2 linked regions of the Homo sapiens genome follow. The protein of the gene in region 1 interacts with the protein of each later gene in a pairwise test. Each region holds a gene or a part of one and is shown in the gene's direction. Other genes may lie near its edges.

Evidence for each region.
Region 2: the proteins of BEND7 (region 1) and PPP1R37 interact in binary tests that used the Homo sapiens proteins (3 or more experiments, as listed by UniProt).

What each region holds. Positions count from the first base shown.
Region 1 is NC_000010.11:13,494,515-13,498,014, reverse strand, and holds part of BEND7 (BEN domain-containing protein 7), read left to right. Parts: intron 1-1,126; coding exon 1,127-1,249; intron 1,250-3,500.
Region 2 is NC_000019.10:45,141,679-45,145,178, forward strand, and holds part of PPP1R37 (protein phosphatase 1 regulatory subunit 37), read left to right. Parts: intron 1-382; coding exon 383-533; intron 534-624; coding exon 625-780; intron 781-1,842; coding exon 1,843-1,955; intron 1,956-3,175; coding exon 3,176-3,317; intron 3,318-3,415; coding exon 3,416-3,500. UniProt on the Homo sapiens protein: Inhibits phosphatase activity of protein phosphatase 1 (PP1) complexes.

The sequences.
Region 1 (3,500 bases):
TATAATTTTAAAGTTGTAACATTACAATTTTGCTACAATTTTGAATGTAAATAATTGTACCACTACAATCACTAAGTTATCCTGAAGTATTTCATGGTTTTGCTCTGGTGAATTTTTCTATAGTATTCCTAAATAATGCATATTACAGGATTTAAGGTATATAAAGTATAATAAAACATATAATTGGAACAAAACCATGGAACTTACCTTGCTGGCCTGTGAGACAATGTGAGCGCTGGAAGTCTCTAAACTGCTCCATTTTATGGTGGTCAGGTGAACAGGTGCTGGAGGGAACCCACTGTAAGAGCAATGTCCAAATGTCCCATTTTATTCTAAGGACAATAGAAGATACTTGCTTACCTATGAGAGAAACAGAATAAGATAGGTTTACCAAGGAAAAGGCATTAAATTTAAACAGTGCAAAAGAGGCTGTGGCAAGGGAAAGATAAGACATGGGAATGGAGAAAAGAGGTAGAGAGATTTTCTTTGTGAAGCTGAAGAAAAGCCAGCCAGCCCACCAATACCCTCGAACGCATCCAATTCGAATATATCCTCCCATCCCTGCTCCTCTGTGCTTCCCCACCCCAAACGCCACACCCAGAGAGTATTCTAAAAGTTTTCATGTGTGCACAGTTCTTTGTTTTTGAAATAATGTGCTTAATATCAAAACTATTTTCAATAGAACTCATATAATTTTTAATATGAACTCTTAAACACAGCTACCAAATTTTTTTTGCAAGGCTGTCCTCAGGGCTCCTTTTTTGTGTGAACTAGCATGAGTGTGTTTCGAGTGAGTTTTTGAGGTGTTGTTATTTGAGATGAACAGCTCTGACAATAGGGAGGCCTGCTGTGCCCACTCATTGTGTGTGTGTGTGCATGCGGGCTCCCGCACCGCGCCACAGCACGCACGTTACAGTATGGAAGCCTGGATAATTAGATAAAGTCAGACCCCCAGATTTAGGTTGTGATAATTAGTGGGTACGTTTTCCTTAGGCACAGCTTCATCATAATTGCACATGCTTCAAAATCCTGCCAAGATACTTTCTTTTTTCTCTCCACCTCTTTATGATTTTTTTTTTTTTTTTTGGTTTGTTTGGAGTATGTCATTCTTTTCTTTCATGCTCAGGAGAACTTCCAGTGGTGAATTCATCAGCTGGATCAAACTGCTGTACTTGTAACTGCCAGTCAACGTTGCAGGCCATTCTACAAGAACTCAAGACCATGAGGAAATTAATGCAAATTCAAGCAGGTACAAGGATCAGGCCTCGGAATGAGTCCTTTGATTTTTAATGCATATCTGACATCTTCCGTTGGAATGTTCATTGTGCTTTTATTAAAGCCTTCTTCTCACCTTGCTGTCTTGCTGTGCCTTTTCAAGTATCTGTTTTTTCAGCTTTCTCTACAATCCATTTTTCCTTTAGCAAATCAAACATATTTTGTCTTGCTACTGATACAGCTCATATAATTATGTGTATGTACTCGATAGACTTCATTCCATGATCTCCTAGTACTTCACAAATGTCAGTTAATTAAATTTGGGAACAACTGTGTATGGAGGGGTCCTTTAGGAAGCATGGGCTTCAGTGTTCAAGCACTAAGCAGATAAGAAATGTGGAGCCCCAGGCTATGCTTTGTGGCTTTTCTCTCTCCTATTCAGGATGCGGAAGCTCAGAAATCCGCCGTGTTCTGTCGTCTTTGTTTATGTGACTCCTTTTTGTTTTCACTGCCATCAGGCAAGTTGAGGGACGGAAGAGCAGTGGATTTGTAATTTGGGATTGGATGCCAATTTCTGCTTTTGGAGCTGTGTGGCGCATCTGAGCTTCCTATTTCACGTCTGTAAATGGAGAATTCATATCTAACTCACAGGGCTGTTGTCAAAATAGAATGATGTAGTAGCTGTCAATGAACTTTATAAGGCATGGTACAAGCCTAAGCTGTTTCATTAGTGTGGTCTTAAAGTCCATGAAGCGTTCTATAGAAGTCTGGAAGTCTACGTCTTCATTATAGCAGCTGTATTTTCTGATCTTCACAATTGAGGGAAAACAGAATTGTTTTTGTCACAGGTACAAGAAATAAATCATTGTATTAAGTTTTCCCTCTTGTCAAGGGACATCACCACTTGATCTAAGCCATGTCGTGACTGGCTTTCCTGCCCTTTCATCAGGATGGTAGTCCGGAAGGTCGTCACTCAGAAGCTGTTCAGGATGCCATTTAGTGAATTCTAGTATAATTTTAATATTCAGTGATGTGGTTTTGATATAAAAAGCTTAATTAATACTTAGATATATCAGTCACCCAAGATCACATTAAAGTAATGTGAGCTACTTTCTGAAAAACAGCATCTTTTTATTTGAGATGGAGTTTCACTCTTGTTGCCCAGGCTGGAGTGCAATGGCATGATCTCGGCTCACCGAAACCTCTACCTCCCAGGTTCAAGCGATTCTCCTGCCTCAGCCTCCCTAGTAGCTGGGATTACAGGCATGTGCCACCACGCCTGGCTAATTTTTGTATTTTTAGTAGAGATGGGGTTTCTCCATGTTGGTCAGGCTGGTCTCAAACTCCCGACCTCAGGTGATCTGCCCGCCTCAGCCTCCCAAAGTGCTGGGATTACAGGCGTGAGCCACCGCGCCGGGCTAAACAGCATCTTTTTAAGCACTGAATTTGGTTTTACCCCAAGGAAGTATTTTGCTCAGGTCAGTAAGCATTGGACTCACCTTGTTCCACTACGATAATCTGTGTTCTTATTAACCTGGAGGAGGTTAACATCTCCTAAATAAGGAGCTCAGAAAGAAAGGTTACTTTATGATGTTCGGATTCTTTTCTCCGAGGAGGAATTTGTTAGCACTTAAGAAAATATGCATATGAAATTGTAATGATTTGTTTTGTCACTTAAGCTCCTTACTACTGAAATGGCAAACTACAAATTGCAACCATTTAAATCCTTGACGGAAGCCTTTTTAGAATCTATTAAGTAAATGCCACTTTGTCGCTATGTTTTCTTTTCTGAACCTTTGCAGATTAGGGAGGTAAACGATTCCAAAGCTGTAGGATGGCACAAAGGATAAACTGAATAAATTACTCTCCTTTAATTTTCTTAAACTTAAAAATTTGTGTCATGTGGGTAGATTTACTTAAGGTTTAATGCCTGAAGACTTAGATTTAAATTACATTTAGAAAGTTTCACCTTTCTTTTAAGAAGACAGGGAATAAGACCTAGAGGTAAGATCTGGATGCCAGAGACTTGGGCTGTGTCTAGATTTGCAAAAGGAGAAGAAAAACTCAGATAGTCCCCGTGTTCCTTAAACCAAAACATTTTCATTTCTAATTGAGAATCATGAGGCTTAGCAAGGCCTGGGGCCTAGACCATCGTGATCATTATTCGAGGTCCCTTTGATTCTGAGGGTGCAGACCCAGCCTTGAGGGGGAATGCAGAGAGACCAAAGAGAAGTTCCCAACTCTGGCTGCACAGCAGAATCACTGGAAGAGCTTTCAGACAATGC
Region 2 (3,500 bases), on another chromosome or scaffold:
GTAATGTCATCCTTCTGTAATGTCATCCCCTTGGAGGTGGCCATGGTCGCCATCCCCACGTCACTCCTGTGTGAAGGCTGGGTGGAGGGACGGGACGGGGCTATCTGGTAACCTCCCAGCCACACAGGAGTTGGAGATCCTGGCTGCCACCAGCCCTGCCTCGCTCACCCACAGGACCCCAGGCTGAGCCTTCCCTCCCCAGCCACAGTTACCCCCATTGTAAAACAAGGCGACATAGCCAGACGACAGCTGTGGCTTCGTTGCTCATTGAGACATGGGGGCACAGGTCCTGGGGCCAGGGAGTGCTGGGGCGGTCCTGGGGCCAGGGAGTGCTGGGGCAGGCCTGAGCCAGTGCCTCACCCCTGTCCTCTTGCCCCTGCAGACGAGCTGCCTGCAGTATCTGGACGCCCGCAACACGCCCCTGCTGGACCACTCGGCGCCCTTCGTGGCCCGTGCCCTGCGCATCCGCAGCAGCCTGGCAGTGCTGCACTTGGAGAACGCCAGCCTGTCGGGGCGGCCCCTCATGCTGCTCGGTGAGCCCCAAGCCCGGGAGGGTGAGCAGGATGTGCAGCCTGTTGGGGGGCAGGGGCCTGCCCAGTCACCGTGCCCCCTCCCCGTCCCCAGCCACGGCCCTGAAGATGAACATGAACCTGCGGGAGCTGTACCTGGCGGACAACAAGCTCAACGGCCTGCAGGACTCGGCCCAGCTGGGTAACCTGCTCAAGTTCAACTGCTCCCTGCAGATCCTGGACCTCCGGAACAACCACGTGCTAGACTCGGGTGGGTGCAGTGGCCCACCCCACCCACACCCGTCACCCAGCACCCACTCTGCCCGGCCCTGCGCTAGGTGGTGCTGGGGACACAGACATGGCCAAGACCACCCCAACGCTGTCCTGCTGGGGCTCCCAGGAGGAAGACAGACCCGCCCTAGACAGTGACAACCTAGAGTGGGCAGGACTGGGCTGGTGGAGCCCAGAGGCGGGGTCCGATCAGTCTGGGGGCCAGGGAGGGCTTCCAGGAGGAGGAGACAGCTCAGCTGACAGCCGCAGGATGAGGCGAAGTGAATAATTACAATCTGAAAAGAAAGCAGTGTTGCTGCCATAACAGGGTCAGCTAGAGGCTGCTTTCAGATGGGAGAGGAGGGAAGACCACCGTGGGGCGGGGCCTCTGGGCTTCCATCCGGAGGCTGGGAGCAGAACCAGCCTTGTGAGAAGCCTGGGAAAGGGTCCAGACCGCGGGAGCAGTGAGTGCAGTGGGAGGAGCTCTGGTGTTTGATGCTGGGGGTTGAGCAGAGAATGGGGAGCCGTCAAAGGAGGCGTTCCTGTTGCATCCTGGAGGGGTGGGGTGGGTCACTGTGTCCCCAGGTGGCAGGCCCAGACCCCACTCTACTGAGCACCTGCCAAGGGCCATGGCTGTCGGCCCCTGGGCTCAGCTCGGAGGGAGACACAGGGCTCTGCCCTTGGGAGTTTGTACTCCAGTCTAGAGAGACAACGATAAGATGAGTGAAATCTCCAGCCTGTCAGATGGTGGGATCTGCATTGGAGGGAGACAGTGGTGACTGTGGGTGGGAGTGAGCTGGCTGTGAGGTGAGGTGGGCCAGAGGTGGTCACATTTGAGCAAAGATCAGAAGCATCTGGTGGAGGCTGTCATCCAGGCACCCAGGCCCAGGGGTCACAGATGTGTGCCCAGGGGTGCCAGGCCGAGGCAGGGCTGCAGGGCAAGGCCTGGGACTGCGGGGCCTCCATGGAGGTCCTAAGCAGAGGGGGTTGCTCCTACCCTGCAGTCCCCTCCCCAGGAAGCACCCGGACCCCAGACAGGGCTCTGACTGCCGGCCTCCTCCAGGTCTGGCCTACATCTGCGAGGGCCTCAAGGAGCAGAGGAAGGGGCTGGTGACCCTGGTGCTGTGGAACAACCAGCTCACGCACACAGGCATGGCCTTCCTGGGCATGACACTGGTGAGTCAGGCTGGCAGGGAAGGGAGGCACCTCGGTCCCCGCTGCCACCTCCCACTCCAGCTCTCAGCACAGTTGCCTCTAGCTGACGGCTCCTGTCCTGCCCATCCTGCAGGTTCAAGACGATTTAAACTCAGCCCCACCTGCTTCCTCATTCAGCTTCTGTGCCTGTTTTCCCTGAGGAGGAGCCCTTCTTTCATTATCTCCTTTTTTTTTTTGAGACCGAGTCTCATCCTGTCACCCAGGCTGGAGTGCAGTGGCGCCATCTAGGCTCACTGCAGCCACTCCAGCCCCCGCCTCCTGGGTTCAAGCCATTCTTCTGCCTCAGCCTCCCAAGTAGCTGGGACTACAGGTGCCCGCCACCCCGCCTAGCCAATTTTTTTATTTTTTATTTTTATTTTTTTTGAGACGGAGCCTCAATCGCCCAGGCTGGAGTGCAGTGGCTCGATCTCCGCTCACTGCAAGCCCCACCTCCTGGGTTCACACCATTGTCCTGCCTCAGCCTCCCGAGTAGTTGGAACTACAGGCACCCACCACCACACCCAGCTAATTTTTTTGTATTTTTTTAGTAGAGAGGGGATTTCACCATGTTAGCCAGGATGGTCGCAATCTGACCTTGTGATCCACCCTCCTCGGCCTCCCAAAGTGCTGGGATTACACGCGTGAGCCACCGCGCCCGGCCTAATTTTTGTATTTTTAGTACAGACGGGGTTTCACCATGTTGGCCAGGCCGGTCTTGAACTCCTGACCTCGAGTGATCCCCCCCACCTCGGCCTCCGAAAGTATTGGGATTATGAGTGAGTCACCGTGCCTGGTTTTCAGTTTTTATGTGGTGCTTAAAGCAAGCCACTCAGGTACAGAGACTCTCAGGGCGAGCACTCGTGTGCTCAAACCCCGGGATAAGAGTTGCCCTCCTTGGGGGCTTCAGGGCGCTCAAGGTCCAGGCCCTGGCCAGGGGCCCAGGCTGTGGGGGGTAGGGACTGACTGGGTGCCTGGGGAGCTGGGAGTGGACGGGGGACCTGGCATTTGGGGAGACTTCAGGCACAGGAGGGACTTCAGGCCAGGCCTGCGGCAGGGCAGGACGGCGCCGGTGTTCACGCAGGCGCGCGAAAGAAAAGGAGCGCCCGGGCCTGGCTCTCTTCCCGGCTTCTTTCCTGACTTGGCCTCCTGGGTCTCCTCCGCCATCACGGCCTCCTCCTCACCCTCACACCCCCTCCCTCCAGCCGCACACTCAGAGCCTGGAGACGCTGAACCTGGGCCACAACCCCATCGGGAACGAGGGTGTGCGGCACCTCAAGAACGGGCTCATCAGCAACCGCAGCGTGCTGCGCCTCGGGCTGGCCTCCACCAAGCTCACGTGCGAGGGTAGGGTACGGGGCCGGGCCAGGGTGCGGGCTGGTGGGCTCAGCCGGGCGGCCAGCCGGGTGTGGGGCCCGTGGCCAGCCCCTGCGGTGCCCCCCCAGGCGCGGTGGCGGTGGCGGAGTTCATCGCTGAGAGCCCCCGCCTCCTGAGACTGGACCTTCGGGAGAACGAGATCAAGACAGGCGG